Linked DNA regions of Homo sapiens: region 2 is linked to region 1. A link means that fine-mapping ties the variant in region 1 to the plasma level of a protein whose gene starts in the linked region. Region 1 holds a variant in brackets. A gene starts in the other region. All regions are shown on their reverse strands.

Region 1 (8,286 bases):
TGGGAAGAGTCTGGGGCTAGCAGGCCCCCCTGTGGGCCTTTGTTGGGGCAACCCCGGTGGGGCCACTTACCCTGCACCTGCCCCTGGGAGGCCTGGTCCAGTGTCACAAAGAGTTGCATGACTGGGGCCAGCTGCACCTGCAGCCGGACGCCAATGGCCATGCTCACCATGATGTGGTAGGAAGACGGGCGGAAGACAGAGAAGCTCGCTGTGGGCAGGGGCACGATGAGGGACACGGTAAGGGGCATGGCGAGGGGCGGGGCTCCCGGGACCTGCCTGGCCCAGGTGAGCAGCGGGAGGGTGTCACCCTCCCACCACCCCCTCCAGCAGAGGACCCAGGACGGAGCCTGCTGGGTGCCGCAGGGACCCTCCCCCCGTGGAACCTTCCCACCCAGCCTCCTGGGTCCGAGGTGGCTGGACTGTCCGAATCACTGCAGGCCCAGTGGAGCTCGAAGGGCCCGGGCCCCTCCCTGGGGCGCAACTCACCGGTCACGTGGGGCAGGTTCACCTGCAGCTCGTTGAGCAGTACACTGCCATCGGACTTGAAGACCACC[A/G]CCTGCAGGGAAGGCCGAGGTTGCTCAGGGCTGAGAAGGGCCCCCCTCGGGGGACCTGGGGCTCCAGAAGGAGGGGGCAGGACCACTCACATTCTTCTTCTTGTCAGCCAGCAGCACCACCGTCTTCAGGCAGGTCTGCTTGTCTGTGGAGCCACAGGGGGCCAGCTCGCCCAGGAGAGCGTAGGAATCGTTGTGGTCACCCTGTGATGGGGCAAGAGGCAGTGCAGCTGCTGAGGGCCGGGACGGGCAGCACCCTGCACCCTAGGACCCGGCAGTGGCTTAGAAAGGAAGGCCTGCTTCTTATTCTCCAGCCAGAGAGCAGAAGCATGGTCACCTGCCCCAGGACAGCCCACAGGCACCCTCTGCTTCAGGGACAGCCAGCCCACCCACCCCGGGACAGCCAAGGGCCTGGATGCCAGCCCCAGCTCTGCCCCATGCCCCAGACCCTGGGCAGCCTACCTTGGCCAGGACATAGTAGCAGTCCCCGTGGAAGGTGTACGTCTTCCCATCGAAGGTGGTGATGTGGGAGCCGCCTTCCAGGGCACAGGTGCCGGGGCAGGGCAGGTCTTTGCACACCCAGCGGCCAGCGTTACAGACACTGTTGGGCAGCGGGGCACAGGGTCAGGGCTCAGCCGCCCCAGCCTCTGCTGTGCCCAGCCCTGGCCCCGGGACTCACCACTGCTCGCAGTCATTGGTGATCTCCTGGCCCGGTGTGTACAGGTGTCCGTGCAGCCTGCAGTGGCACTGGCTCACAGGAACGCAGCCACTGTCCCCGATGTCGTCATATACGGTGCCTGGGACAGCCAGGGAGGCGATGTCACCCCGGCTGGCTCAGAAAGAGCCAGAATCCCCACCGAGGGGCTGCCAGCCAGGCCTCCCACCCGCAGGCACCACTGGTCCCCTGTGCTGACGCCTGCGGTCCCCACCTGGTCCCTGGGTTGGGGTCTGGCCATGGGGGTCCAGCCTCCAGGCCACCTTCCTGCCCCTGACAATCGAGCTGCTCCCAAAGGCCTCAGGCACCAGGCCAGGGGCCGGGCAGGAGGAGGTCTGTCCCCAGGGTGATAACCAGGAAGGCAGCCCCCTTCCCGGCCTCCCTGAAGCCACCCTTTGGGAAGGGCCTCACACCGAGGCCCCTTCTCCCCCGGTATCGGGTGGAGGGAGAGGCACTTCTGTGCCGCCGCTGCCCCCACCACCCAGCGGAGCCGTCCCCTCAGCGCAGGCGAGAACCCCAGGCCAGGGCTGCCTCTCATCTGGTGGGCAGTGCCAGGGCGGGGCCATCCTCCACACGCACCTTCTGGGCAGAAACAGCCGTCCATGCGGTGCTCCTCGCACAGGCTGCTCACCTCCAGGTGTGAGCAGGTGTCCATGCAGGGCGAGCCGCTCTCCAGGTACACCAGGTTCCCGGGGCAGGTCTTGGCTGGAACCGCAGAGGCCACGCAGTGAGGGTGAGGCTGGGGCACAGCAGCCGCTCCACCCCGAAGTGCACCGAGAAGGGCTCTCAGCCCACGGTGAGTGTCCCCCCAGCTCCCGGTGCCCGGCGCGGTGAGTGTCCCCCCAGCTCCCGGTGCCCGTGGTGAGTGTCCCCCCAGCTCCCGGTGCCCGTGGTGAGTGTCCCCCCAGCTCCCGGTGCCCGGCACGGTGAGTGTCCCCCCAGCTCCCGGTGCCCGTGGTGAGTGTCCCCCCAGCTCCCGGTGCCCGTGGTGAGTGTCCCCCCAGCTCCCGGTGCCCTCAGTGAGTGTCCCCCCAGCTCCCGGTGCCCGTCACGGTGAGTGTCCCCCCAGCTCCCGGTGCCCGTGGTGAGTGTCCCCCCAGCTCCCGGTGCCCGGCACAGTGAGTGTCCCCCCAGCTCTCGGTGCCCGTGGTGAGTGTCCCCCCAGCTCCCGGTGCCCTCAGTGAGTGTCCCCCCAGCTCCCGGTGCCCGGCACGGTGAGTGTCCCCCCAGCTCCCGGTGCCCGTGGTGAGTGTCCCCCCAGCTCCCGGTGCCCGTCACGGTGAGTGTCCCCCCAGCTCCCGGTGCCCGTGGTGAGTGTCCCCCCAGCTCCCGGTGCCCGGCACAGTGAGTGTCCCCCCAGCTCTCGGTGCCCGTGGTGAGTGTCCCCCCAGCTCCCGGTGCCCTCAGTGAGTGTCCCCCCAGCTCCCGGTGCCCGGCACGGTGAGTGTCCCCCCAGCTCCCGGTGCCCGTGGTGAGTGTCCCCCCAGCTCCCGGTGCCCGTGGTGAGTGTCCCCCCAGCTCCCGGTGCCCGTGGTGAGTGTCCCCCCAGCTCCCGGTGCCCGTCACGGTGAGTGTCCCCCCAGCTCCCGGTGCCCGTGGTGAGTGTCCCCCCAGCTCCCAGTGCCCGTGGTGAGTGTCCCCCCAGCTCCCAGTGCCCGCGGTGAGTGTCCCCCCAGCTCCCGGTGCCCGTGGTGAGTGTCCCCCCAGCTCCCGGTGCCCGTGGTGAGTGTCCCCCCAGCTCCCGGTGCCCGTGGTGAGTGTCCCCCCAGCTCCCGGTGCCCGTCACGGTGAGTGTCCCCCCAGCTCCCGGTGCCCGTGGTGAGTGTCCCCCCAGCTCCCAGTGCCCGTGGTGAGTGTCCCCCCAGCTCCCAGTGCCCGTGGTGAGTGTCCCCCCAGCTCCCGGTGCCCGGCGCGGTGAGTGTCCCCCCAGCTCCCGGTGCCCGTGGTGAGTGTCCCCCCAGCTCCCGGTGCCCTCAGTGAGTGTCCCCCCAGCTCCCGGTGCCCGTCACGGTGAGTGTCCCCCCAGCTCCCGGTGCCCGTGGTGAGTGTCCCCCCAGCTCCCGGTGCCCGTCACGGTGAGTGTCCCCCCAGCTCTCGGTGCCCGTGGTGAGTGTCCCCCCAGCTCTTGGTGCCCTCAGTGAGTGTCCCCCCAGCTCCCGGTGCCCTCAGTGAGTGTCCCCCCAGCTCCCGGTGCCCTCAGTGAGTGTCCCCCCAGCTCCCGGTGCCCGGCACGGTGAGTGTCCCCCCAGCTCCCGGTGCCCTCAGTGAGTGTCCCCCCAGCTCCCGGTGCCCGGCGCGGTGAGTGTCCCCCCAGCTCCCAGTGCCCGTGGTGAGTGTCCCCCCAGCTCAAGGTGCCCGTCACAGTGAGTGTCCCCCCAGCTCTCGGTGCCCGTCACGGTGAGTGTCCCCCCAGCTCCCGGTGCCCGGCGCGGTGAGTGTCCCCCCAGCTCCCGGTGCCCGTCACAGTGAGTGTCCCCCCAGCTCTCGGTGCCCTCAGTGAGTGTCCCCCCAGCTCCCGGTGCCCGGCGCGGTGAGTGTCCCCCCAGCTCCCGGTGCCCTCAGTGAGTGTCCCCCCAGCTCCCGGTGCCCGGCACGGTGAGTGTCCCCCCAGCTCCCGGTGCCCGTCACAGTGAGTGTCCCCCCAGCTCCCGGTGCCCGTCACAGTGAGTGTCCCCCCAGCTCTCGGTGCCCGTCACAGTGAGTGTCCCCCCAGCTCCCGGTGCCCTCAGTGAGTGTCCCCCCAGCTCCCGGTGCCCGGCACGGTGAGTGTCCCCCCAGCTCCCGGTGCCCGGCACGGTGAGTGTCCCCCCAGCTCCCGGTGCCCGTGGTGAGTGTCCCCCCAGCTCCCGGTGCCCGGCACGGTGAGTGTCCCCCCAGCTCCCGGTGCCCTCAGTGAGTGTCCCCCCAGCTCCCGGTGCCCGGCACGGTGAGTGTCCCCCCAGCTCCCGGTGCCCGTCACAGTGAGTGTCCCCCCAGCTCCCGGTGCCCGTCACAGTGAGTGTCCCCCCAGCTCTCGGTGCCCGTCACAGTGAGTGTCCCCCCAGCTCCCGGTGCCCTCAGTGAGTGTCCCCCCAGCTCCCAGTGCCCGTGGTGAGTGTCCCCCCAGCTCCCGGTGCCCGGCACGGTGAGTGTCCCCCCAGCTCCCGGTGCCCGTCACAGTGAGTGTCCCCCCAGCTCCCGGTGCCCGGCGCGGTGAGTGTCCCCCCAGCTCTCGGTGCCCGTGGTGAGTGTCCCCCCAGCTCCCGGTGCCCGGCACGGTGAGTGTCCCCCCAGCTCCCGGTGCCCGGCGCGGTGAGTGTCCCCCCAGCTCCCGGTGCCCGGCACGGTGAGTGTCCCCCCAGCTCCCGGTGCCCGGCACGGTGAGTGTCCCCCCAGCTCAAGGTGCCCGGCACGGTGAGTGTCCCCCCAGCTCCCGGTGCCCGTGGTGAGTGTCCCCCCAGCTCCCGGTGCCCGGCACGGTGAGTGTCCCCCCAGCTCCCGGTGCCCGTCACGGTGAGTGTCCCCCCAGCTCCCGGTGCCCGTCACGGTGAGTGTCCCCCCAGCTCCCGGTGCCCGGCACGGTGAGTGTCCCCCCAGCTCTCGGTGCCCGTGGTGAGTGTCCCCCCAGCTCCCGGTGCCCGGCACGGTGAGTGTCCCCCCAGCTCAAGGTGCCCGGCACGGTGAGTGTCCCCCCAGCTCCCGGTGCCCGGCACGGTTAGTGTTCCCCCAGCTCAAGGTGCCCGGTGCGGTGAGTGTCCCCCCAGCTCAAGGTGCCCGGCACAGACACAGCTCCCACCCGGGCTTGGGGAAAGCACCAGCGTGGGGTCTCCCTGGGGTCCCCTGCCCACAAGGCGCCGGGGCTTACGGCAGAGCGTGGCGGTCCTCCAGTTCCCGGGCCGGCCGCCGGCGTGGGAGCACTGGCGGGAGAACTCGGCCACGGTGCTGCAGACGCAGGTGTCACCGCCCGGGCACCGGCAGCGGTCCTGCTGGCAGGCGCGCAGATACGGCTCCAGCGGCACCAGGTCCTGACAGTCCGCGAAGGCCTCGGCGGTCAGCAGCCTCTCACACTCGGCGCGCTGGGGACAGACGCAGGGTGAGCATGCTATTCAGAGGCCAGCTCCGCCAGGACCCCCACCCCGGACCGAGGGGACTCACGTGCTCGGAGCAGGATGCGGGGGCCACCTCCTCCTCGGGATCCTCACACACCACATCGGGCTGGTTGATCTTCTGCATGTTCCCAAACTCCAGGGGACTGAAGAGCACGCCTGGGGATGCACGGCCCTTCAGCTAGGGCTCCTGGGGGCCCGTAGCCTACCCTGCCCCCTCCAAGCCCTCCGGGCCTCACCGTCAGAGAGGAATTCTGAATAGCTCTGCAGGCCGTTGTAGTCCCCGCAGAGGCCACAGGTGTGGTTCCGGAACTTAGTGTCCAGCTCCAGCTGTTGCGGGAGGGAGCAGGTGAGCTGGCCTCCCGCCCGGCCCACAGCCGCCAGGAACCCCCAAGACTCGTGGCTTGTTTGAGCCAGAGGAAGGTGGGGCAGGAAGGCTGGGGTCAGCAGCCAGGGAGCGGCCTGGCAGGGCAGGTCCCTGAGAAGCCGAGTGCGTTTGGGGGAAGGCTGAGGCCTGGGGGGGTCAGGGCCAGGTCGGCTTCTGCTGCTGCCCCCCAAGTCCAGCACCGACGCCCTGCGCTGCCGAGGCCCTGCCCCACCCATGCCCTCTCGGTGAGGGGTCAGAGCACTGCCCTCCCTGCCCTCCCTTGGGGTCTGCCCAGAGGCCTGACGGAGCCCCCACCAGCCCCACGAGTCCGGGGACCCCTGAGCACCATGAGTGCATCCTCCCGGTTCCACATGAGGGTGAGGCCGGCGCGGGAGTAGACTTTGGTGTAGGCATCGCTCTTCTCAATGAGCAGCCCGGGGCTGTAGTGCGGGGTGCTGACCCTGGCGGAGGCACATCGGGGTCACTCTTGGGTCCACCACCCAGGCCCCCCCGCCCCAGCTTGTCCTCCCGGGACCCCGCCGCCCAGAGGGGACTGAAGCTGGGCACCTGGGGTGGTGGAGATGGCTCTGCCAGGCCCAGCTCCTGCCCTGGGATCACCAACTTGGCCGGCCTCTGGGGTGGAGGGACATAGGCAGTGGCCAAAGAGCACCTGTCCATCTCCGCTGGCCGGGCTTCCCCGGCAGAGCCACCTCCTGCCTGCACGCCCCTCCTCTCCACTCCCTCCTCGGGGCACGGTCCTGGGCAGGGTCCCCCCTCAGAGGCCCTGAGGGCACCAGGTTGGGAGAGGAGGGAGGACCAGGCTGCCCAGCCCCCTTCCAGGCCCCCTGCTTGGTGGAACATCCCCCCATGGGGTCCCAAACCCCCCAGAGCCCCCCAGGCTGCCCCTGAGAACGTCAGGGGCCCTACCCCACCTCCTGCCAGTGCCCCTTGCTGGTCCAGGTAGAGGCACTCACCCCAGCCTCTGTGCCTCGGTCCTCAAGGGCCTCTACCTGCCTGCCCATGCCTGAAAGCCTCTACCCACCCACCTGCCAACACCCATGCCTGAGGGCCCCTACCCACCCACCCGCCTGCGCCCATGCCTGAGGGCCTCTACCCACCCACCTGTGCCATGCCTGAGGGCCTCTACCCACCCACCCACCTGCGCCCACACCTGAGGACCTCTACCCACCCGCCCGCACCTACGCCTGACGGCCTCTATCCACCCACCCGCGCCCACGCCTGAGGGCCTCTACCCACCCACCCGCCTGCACCCATGCCTGAGGGCCTCTACCCACCCACCCGCGCCCACACCTGACGGCCTCTACCCACCCACCTGCCCATGCCCACACCTGAGGACCTCTACCCACCCGCCTGCACCCATGCCTGACGGCTTCTATCCACCCACCCGCCCGCACTCACGCCTGAGGGCCTCTACCCACCCGCCTGCCCATGCCCATGCCTGAGGGCCTCCACCCGCCTGCCCATGCCCATGCTGGGGCGCCTTGCAGGAAACTAAATCCCCAGGCAGAAGAGGGGCAGGCGCTGGATGGGAACGCACTTACAGGGCCTCATTGTTCTGGAGACAATAGGGGAGCAATAGCTGGGGATGGGGAAGGGGGTCCCACAGCCCCCTGCACCGGCTTCTGTAACTCTAGCCTGGGGAGGGCACACACGGCCACTCCATGCACAGGACCAGAGACATGCAGCCTCCAGGGGTGCCAAGTCTGTCCGGAGCCTGGTGGGCTCCGAGGGGAGGGGCTGTCAGGGACACACAGGCAAAGGGATAACTGAAACCCCTTGCCTATGGGGGGAATGGTGGGGGCTCATCAGTGTTTGTTGAATGAATTAGTGACCTGAACCCAAACCTCAAGGCTGTTCTCCTGAGCTGTGTGCTGGGGCGGAAGGGGTCTTCTAGGGCTACAAGGAATATCCCTTTGGGAAACATCAGCCCCCGTTGCTAGGATGTGGGAGGGGTGCCACCGACCACACTCACACGGCCCCGTTAAGCACAGCCAGGTGGCGGGTGAGGTAGATGGTGTCATCCTTGATGGTCAGCAGGATGGACTCCACCCCGGCGGGGGCCTCAGCCTGGCCCGGACCCCGCTTCAGGTGCACAGCAAATTCCTTGTAGGAGCCTCGGCAGTCGGAGGCGAAGTTGTAGTCGCAGGGGCCGGGGAAGCGGAAGACGTCCCCGTCGAAGGTCTTGTAGTGGAAGTTGCCCCAGGTGCTGCAGACGTTGTGGCCGTGGTTTCGGGTTCTGCCCTCTGAGGGAGCAGCGGGGAATGAGGGGTGAGTGGCCCCGGAGGGGGAAGGCTGCCCAAGCTACCCTCGAGAGAAGGCCCCTGAAGAAGCACCTGGAAGCAGCTTCGAGCCCAGCACAGGGCCCCTGGCCGGGAAAGGTTCCTTCCTATCCTCGGGCCCTCTGCTGGGCCTTGGTCACCCCACCACAGGGGTCTCAGGGCTTCTACCCCCGGCCTGGTGAGGAGTGCGGCCGGGTGCCAAGCGGGATGTAGGAGAGGGCATTCTGGGCACCCCGCTCCCCAGCAAGGGCTGTGCTGCCCCAACTCT
Region 2 (8,324 bases), not on the chromosome of region 1:
TGGCTGAACTGCTTAAAGGACATGAGCAAACTGTGATGTGACTGACAAGCATGATGGGTGGATGAGGGAACTGGAGCTATGTCTAATGGCACAGGTGGAAGGAAGGGCGTTTATGTAAATTAGAGAAGGGCAGGATGCTCCCTGAAGTCTCTGAAGGGCTATCCTGGGGCTGAGGGAGAGATGGACTCTTTTCAACCTCACAAAGCAGAGCCCATCTCTGTGAGGAGGCTGCAGGGAAGCAGGTTTGGGTTCCATATGAAGCAGAATTTTCTCTCAGTGGGAGCTATGCCACAGTGAAAGAGGCTTTCTCCAGAAGTAGTGAGTTTCCCATCACTGGAGGTGTGCAAGGCAATGTAGTTTTATATTTTCCTGGAGATGCTATTACAGGGTATTTCCACAGAGAGAGGGAAACAGAAACTTAGACTAAGTCACCCCAATGTGCTGTTTAAGCCTGGCATTGGGGTATCAAAATGCAAACCTAGACCTGTCACTGAACTGCTTAAAACCCTTCCATGTCAAATTGCCCAAACTGAAAGTGATCCAAATGTCCTTCAACAGGAGAATGGATAAATAAATACAATGGGGCACTACTGAACAATTAAAACAAGCAACTGATACATGCAATAACGTGGCTGAATCTCAAAAATAGTTTGCTGAGCATAAGAAACCACACACAAAAGATTATATACCCTATGATTCCATTTATGTGAAATCCTAGAACAGGCCAACTAATCTATGATGGAAAAAAATCACATTGGGAAGCTGGGGCAGGAGGATCACTTGAAGCCAGGAGTTTGAGACCAGCCTGGGCAACATAGCAAGACCTCATCTCTACAAAAAATTTAACAATGAGGGCAGGTTGCAGTAGCACACACCTGTAATCCCAGCGCTTTGGGAAGCTGAGGCAGGTGGATCACCTGAAGTCAGGAGTTCGAGACCAGCCTGACCAACATGGTGAAACCCCATATCTACTAAAAATACAAAATTTGCTGGGCGTGGTGGTGCACACCTATAATCCCAGCTATTTAGGAGGCTGTGGCAGGAGAATCACTTGAACCCAGTAGGCAGAGATTGCAGTGAGCCAAGATTGTGCCACTGGACTCCAACCTGGGTGACAGAGCAAAACTCCGTCTCAAAAATAAATAAATAAATAAATAAAAATAAATTTAAAAAAATTTTTAAATTAGCTGAGTGTGGTGGCACGCACCTGTAGTCCCAGCTACTTGTGAGGCTGAGATAGGAGGATCGTTTGAATCCAGGAGGTTGAAGCTGCAGTGAGCTATGATTGCACCACTGCACTCCAGCCTGGGCAACAGAGTGAGACTTTGTCTCTTAAAAAAAAAAAAAAAGTGTCAGAGCACTGGGATGGGGGCAGGGATTGACTGACATAGGGGAATTTCTGGGGCTATGGAAATGTTCTGTATTTATTTTTCTTCCCTAAGTCCTTGTCTCAAGAGGTCCTGTATCTTGATGGGGGTTTGGGTTACACGAGTGTATACATTGTCAAGATTCATCGAGTGATAAGATTTGTGCATTTCTTGATATTTAACTGTTAGGGAAAAGAAAAGCATTTAAAAAATATAAAGCCCTTCCGTGGTTCCCTGTCCTGATCACTAAGCCTCCCTATGGACCTGAGCTGCTTAGTCTTATGTTTAGGGTACTGCGTAAGCTGACCCTAAACTTGCTTCTTGGGCTGACTTCCCAGTACACCTCTCCATGCCCCAGCTATTCCTCTCTGCTCACGGGTCCTAGATTGGGCCCTGCTTTGGCTCATGCCATGTCCCCTCCCTGAAATGTCTTCGTCTCCGTTCTCCTCCCGCCGAATCATACCCTCCTTTCAAGGCTTGATGCTGCCCCCCAGTGAAGCTGTCCTTGACGTCCCCAACAGTTTCCTGAGCAGATCTGGATGGAGGCTTCTTTCACACCACCATGTACTGTCCCACTCACTGGGTCACCCCGCCTCCCTATGCACCTGAGCTCCTTGGGGTTCCTTTATGTCTGCCTTTGCGCAGCACTTGGTTCAATGTCCTACACTGTGGGTGTTCAGGAATTGAATACTAAAGTGCATTGGTGTAATCCCAGCACCTTGGGAAGCCGAGGCGGGCAAATCTTGGGGTTGGAAGTTCGAGACCAGCCTGGCCAACATGGTGAAACTCCGTCTCTACTAAAAATACAAAAATTAGTTGGGTGTGGTGGCATGTGCCTGTAATCCCAGCTACTCAGGAGGCTGAGGCAGGATAATTGCTTCAACCTAGGAGGCAGAGGTTGCAGTGAGCCAAGATCGTGCCACTGCACTCCAGCCTGGGCAACAAAGCAAGACTCTGTCTTGAAAAAAAAATTTTTGTTTAAATAAAAAAAAAAATTAAAGTGTATTGGGAGGAGGGGGTGTTCAGAACTCTAAGATGTCAGAGTTTCTTTCTGGGGGATGTGGGGAAAAGCTACATTTACCCCCAGGCTGCCCTTGACCTTGACCCAAAATGCCCCCTCCTCACTCAGCCCAGGCAGTAGTCTGAAATGTGCAAAAAACAAAAACAAAAACAAACAAACAAAAACCAAACTTCTTCAGAGCAGGCTTTTCAGTGTTCCCAACTGCTCAAGGAGTAGGTAGGTGTAGGTGCCAGGCTGGGCGTAAGCAGGCTGCTCCTGAACAGGTCCCCAGACCCGTTTCCCTTTCCCCCTGTGCCCAGGTCTGTTTCCAGCTGGGGAAATGGGTGTGGGACTGGCCATGAGGTCAGTGGCCCTGGATCCTGCCAGGCGTTGCCTTATAACTTATGGCTTTTGTCCAGGCGGGTCCTAACTGGTCTCCCCGCTTCCCTGTTCAGTTTATTCTCAATGTACCAACCAGAGCAACCCTTGAAAGACATAACTCTCTGCTCAAAGCTTTCAGTGCCTCCCATTTTAGTCAGAGGAAAAGCCAAGTTCTTATGTTGGCCAACAAGGTCTTTCCCGGTACAGTTCCAATTTGCCTCTCTCATCTCCTCTCCTATCACTCCGTACAATGTCCCCTCCTGCCACACTGGTCTTACAGTACCTCAGTCACTCCAGGCATGCCCCTGCCTCAGGTCCTTTGCACCTGAGCTGTTCCCTCTGCCTGGAATCTTCTCCCAGATATCCACATGGCTTAGTCCCTCATCTCCTTCAAGCTTTGCTCAAACATCGGACTCTCAGAGATACCTCCCCTGATTTGAAATTGCAACCCCCTTCCAGTGCCCATCACCCTGCCAAGTATTTTTTCCTTAACTTTTATCAGCTTCTAACATACCGTTTAACATACATTGTAACCATCTTGTTTATTGCCTTTCCCCTTTTCCTCTACCCCATTGGATTTATGCTCCATCAGGACCGTGCTTTTTCTGTTTGGGTCACTAATCTGTCTTAAGGGCTCAGAACAGTGCCTGACATGGTAGCTGTGAGATTGCAGGGATGGCCCAGATCCTGAGAGGGCCCTGCCCCAAGTATATGTGTCCAGTCCTGGGAAAGGGCTCTGTCGTGCTCACATGGCTGCCCAAGTCCCAAACCACAGCCTTTCAGAGAGATCGGGAGCTCAGAAGACCTCGGCCAGGTCTCTCTTAGCATCCACCACCCTGCACCCAGCATACTTGTCAGTCTCTCCTGAGAGCTGGGACCTACCTGCTCCCTTCTGTCCCCACAGCCTCCAGCCCAATAGTTGCTCAGTGCAGCTTTGAACTGGAACAATGCCCTCTTTTACAGCTGGAGAAACTGAGGCCCCAAGAGGGTAGGGGACTTTGGTAATTCTGCGCCAGTCAGGATTTGAACCCAAGTTTCTTTTCTCCCAGCCCAGAACTTTCCCCAGCACAGTGGAGGGTGCATATGCAGAATGAAGGTACATGGAAAAAGCTGAGGCCTCACAGGGTGCTCCAGGCCCTGCTTCTGCTCTCACCCCAAGCTCACCTACCAACACAAAGCCACAGAGAATCCAGGTTCTGCCCACTCACCCCTGTCCACAACAAGGAGGGCAGCCAAGGCCAGGGCGATTACCCACTGGCGGACGGCCATGCTGATCCTGGGATAGTGTAGCCTGAGCTGGCTGGGGCCTGCGCCTGAGGAAGGATGGGGGCCTATTTATAGTGCCGCTCTCCTAATCTTATCTTATCTAGGGCCAGATGGAGAGACCAGAGTTAATCTTTGCACGCTGACATCCGGAAAGGGCTTGCTCTAGGTGCAGATGCTGAGCTTTTGATGAGATGGGGCTGTGGCCATGGGGCTGGCAGGTTTCCAGAGTGACAAAAAGTTTGGACAACTTGCAAAGCTGACTCCAATCTGAGGGTTGGAGCAAGGAGAGGAAAGTTGAAGTAGAAAGAGAGAGAGTTCAAGGCAGAGAGAAGGGGAAAGAGATAGAGAAAGAGAGAAAGGAAAAAAGCAACTGGAAGATGGCAGGAGGCAGAGAAGGGGGCTGGAGCCTGGATTCCTTTGCCAGTGCCTCCAGCAACCAACTCTGGGACCTCGGTAGAGCCACTTTTCTTAACTGGGCCTCAGATCACCCATGCACGAAGTGGAGATGAGACTTTTGGCTCTGCCTTTCTCCCAGGCTGCTGTGAGGATGGCGGCGGTGATAGCAGACGGGAAAACATTTTGCAGAATATGAAATGAGCTGTAAACGTAAGCAGAAATGATCATTTTTACTTACTTTTATTTCACTTATTTTTTTGTACCGCAAAGTGGGCACAACTAACAGGCAAAACAAAGGCAAAATAAAACATTAAAAGGAAGATGCCTTCTTGCTTTGCAGGTATTATGTGTTCATTTGCTTTTTTTTTTTTTGAGACAGAGTCTCACACTGTTGCCCGGGCTGGTGTGCCTGGCGCGATCTCGGCTGGCTGCAACCCCTGCCTCCTGGGTTCAAGCGATTCTCCTGCCTCAGCCTCCTGAGTAGCTAGGATTACAGGCACCTGCCACCTGCCCAGCTAACTTTTTGTATTTTTAGTAGAGACGGGGTTTCACTATGTTGGCCAGGCTGATCTCGAACTCCTGACCTCGTGATCTGCCTGCCTCGGCCTCCCAAAGTGCTGGGATTATAGGCATGAGTCACTGCACGCGGCCTCATCTGTATCTTCATAGGTTAAATAAAGACAAGATTCTTTTAAAGAAAAATCAGTTTCTAAAACTCCCCCATACTTACATAGTATACATTAATAAGTCATTTGGATATTTGCTCTCAAAGAATTTCTGATATATAAAATACATTTTATTTACATACACGTTTCTCTAATTCATTTAGATCAGTGTTTTTCAGCTCTGTCTGCAGATTGGATTTCCCTGGGGGAGAATTTACAAATACAGATGCTGAGCTTCGCTCTGAAATATTTAAATCAGAATCTGTGTTTTTTTTTTTTAAAGAAAAACTTTATTTCGAAAGATTTCAAGCCTGCAGATAAGTTGCAAGAATATTCCAATGACAAGGCGAAGGATTCTTGTTTGAGGACAGCCCCAGCCAGGTGCGGTGGCTCATGCCTGTAATCCTAACACTTGGGAGGCTGAGGCAGGAGGATTGCTTGAGCCCAGAAATTAGAGACCAGCCTGGGCAATATAGCAAGACCCCAACTCTAAAAAAAAATTTTTTTTTTAATTAAAAAAAGAACAGTCCCTTTGGGGACACCAGCCATCCAGTCACCTCTACAGACCCATAGAAGCCCCAGACCTGTGGCCAAGACTAGCTTGAGGCCCCCAGTGATCCTTGACTCAGCTTCAAGATCCTTCCGTTCCTCCTTAGGAAACTGCACAGTCCCAGGGATGCCTCTGAGGCAGGTGGCAGCTATCTTTCCATTGCTTAGGCAGGTAGAGAAAATATTTAATGATGACTTCCTGTCCTAAAGCAAAAACGCCATCTTATAAAAGGGGAATTGGACTTTAAAGGTCATCTTGGGGCCAGGCACCATGGCTCACACCTGTAATCCCAGCACTTTGGGAGGAGGCTGAGGCGGGTGCATTCACTTGAGGTCAGGAGTTCGAGACCAGCCCTGGTCAACATGGTGACACCCATCTCTACCAAAAATACAAAAAATTAGCCAGGCGTGGTGGCGCATACCTGTAATCCCAGCTACTCAGGAGGCTGAGGCAGGAGAATTGCTTGAACCTGGGAGGTGGAGGGTGCAGTGAGCCAAGGTTGTGCCACTGCATTCCAGCCTGGTGACAGAGCGAGAAACTGCCTAAATAAATAAATAAATAAATAAATAAATAAAAATAGGCTTGGTGTGGTGGCTCACGCCTGTAATCCTAGCACTTTGGGAGGCCAAGCTGCATGGATCACCTGAGGTCAGGAGTTCGAGACCAGGCTGGCTGACATGGTGAAACCCCATCTCTACTAAAAATACACACACACACACACACACACACACACACACACACAAATTAGCTGGGTGTGGTGGCGTGTGCCTGTAATCTCAGTTACTTGGGAGGCTGAGGGAGGAGAATTACTTGAACTAGGGAGGCGGAGGTTGAAGTGAGCCGAGATTGCGCCACTGCACTCCAGCCTGGGTGATGGAGCCAGACGGTCTCAAAATAAATAAATAGATACATAAATAAATAAAATAATAAAATAAAAAATAATGGTCATCTGGGTTTCATCTCCCTTCTTCCACTAGGGCTTTCCTACAGCAGCCCCACTGGGAGGTCATTCATGGTGATGGGGAGCTCACTACCTACCAGTTTCGTTGTTGGATGGCTTCGAACAAAGACAGTCCTTCCTCACACAAGAGGTCTGCCTCCCTGAGAGTCCTTGGGGCTTATAGCTTTGTCTCTGGCCTCCTGTACTTGCATGAACCTCCTGTACTTGCACAAGCACCTTTAGGCTGAGCAGGTCTGCCATCTGCCTGCCTCCTACCCTTGCACATGTGAAGCTCCTGGGCCTCTCTCCATTTCTCATCTGATCACTGACAGGTCTGTCTGTCAGTGTCCCAGGTTACAGTGAGGAAGGGACAGAGGGGAGCAAAGGGATTTGATCCCTTCCTTGTTTTGGACCTTAGATTTCTATCCACGTGGCAGAAATGGCTACTGAACATTCTAGTTGCTGCAAGGAGCCAGGACGCTTGAATTTTGCATCCTTCAAAGTACAGAGTAAAGTCAAGGGCAGCCTGTGGAGTACTGAGCTCACTTACCATCCCAGCCCACCCCAAGGTCTCCTCTTCAGACAAATACCTTCTAGATTCACTCATAGTAACAAACTTCGTAATCTGTCATCCCATCAAAGTGTGAACCTAGCTCCTATATCCGACTGCTATTGAACAGCCCATTAAGGATGTCAGTGCATCCAAGAAAACCTCACCATTAATTCACCATTCATGTATTCAGTAAAAGTTTAACAAGCGGCTAAGTGCCATGCTCCATGCTGAGTGCTTGGATATGGCAGAGAGTGAGTCAGATACAGTTCCTGTCCTCCAGGAGCTTTGGTTAAGTAGAGGCACAGTACTGAACGGGCAGCAGCATTGTATCATCACTGCTGGAGTGAGTCCCATGAACCACACATGCTCTGTTCTGTGAGAGGATCCAAGAGTGACCTATCCATCTGAGATCAGAGACGCCAAGGGCTGAGTGGGCAGGGCAGGCTGTAGCCAAGTGGAACAGTGCTGCAGGTAGAGGAAACAGAATGTGTGAGAGCCCTGAGGCAAGAAGAAGCTTCTCACATCTGAAGAACAGAGAAGCCATGTGGGCAAAGTGGGGCCAGGGAGCCGGGGAGGGCCATGACAGGAGTCTGGAATGGTCAGTGGGGGCTAAATAAGCCTTGATCTCTGCTCCCCTGACCCACATCCCAGCAACCTCCGGCAGTGGAATCCCAGGCACTGACCCCTCAGCCTTGTTTGCCTTCCCATGGAGGGTCTAGGTTCTGCTTCCTACATAGCTCTTGAATCCATCCCTGCCCCTCCACACCCCCCACTCTACCCTAGTCCTGGCCACTGTTGTCTCCAACCTGGCCACCTCAATGGTGTCCTGTCTCATATCCCTGGCTCTCCACCTGCCACTCCAAATCACTCTGCACGCAGCGTCCCGGACAAGCGTCCTAAAGAGCAAAGCTGACCAGGTCATCTTGCCCAAAACACTGTAATGGCGTCCACTGCCAACAGGAAGAAGCCCAAACTCCTTAGCCTGGTGACCACACCCCTTCAACATCTGATCCCAACCCATCTTTCCAGCTTCACCTTCACCTTGCCCCACCCTGGACCTGCACTTCTTCAGTTCAACTGAACCCCTTGCACAATTTATTCTGTCTGCTGGCAATGCTGGGTCTCCCTTCTCTATCCCCCTACTCCCATCCTGTGAAACCTAGCTTAAACATTCCCTCTTCTGAAACCTTCCTAACTGCCTTTCAC

Which allele goes with the higher level. Positions count from the first base shown, and alleles are read on the strand shown. Strength reflects both the effect of a copy and how common the allele is.
In carriers of allele G in region 1, the plasma level of the protein whose gene starts at base 4,059 in region 2 tends to be higher than with A alone (strong association).

What was found. PIP is the chance, under the fine-mapping model, that this variant and not a neighbour inherited with it causes the effect. Protein levels are from antibody-based Olink assays in UK Biobank. Linkage for the fine-mapping came from a reference panel and not from the study's own genotypes, which makes the PIPs less certain.
Region 2: it holds the start of SPINK4, and the variant in region 1 is fine-mapped to the plasma level of the SPINK4 protein (UK Biobank, PIP above 0.99).

The regions. Positions count from the first base shown.
Region 1 is chr11:1,075,347-1,083,632 of GRCh38, reverse strand. It overlaps MUC2 (mucin 2, oligomeric mucus/gel-forming), which reads right to left. Exons shown (of 58, transcript NM_002457.5): 2 at 7,712-7,982; 3 at 6,065-6,179; 4 at 5,591-5,681; 5 at 5,401-5,510; 6 at 5,111-5,321; 7 at 1,846-1,971; 8 at 1,231-1,348; 9 at 1,014-1,152; 10 at 645-755; 11 at 487-556; 12 at 71-208. Among named protein-coding and RNA genes, the nearest start is that of MUC2, 4.6 kb to the right of the region's middle. RefSeq lists enhancers at 4,745-5,286, 5,312-5,812. The variant A/G (reference allele first, on the strand shown) is at 555.
Region 2 is chr9:33,235,902-33,244,225 of GRCh38, reverse strand. It overlaps SPINK4 (serine peptidase inhibitor Kazal type 4), which reads right to left and starts at 4,059. Exons shown (of 4, transcript NM_014471.3): 1 at 3,957-4,059. The coding sequence starts at 4,017.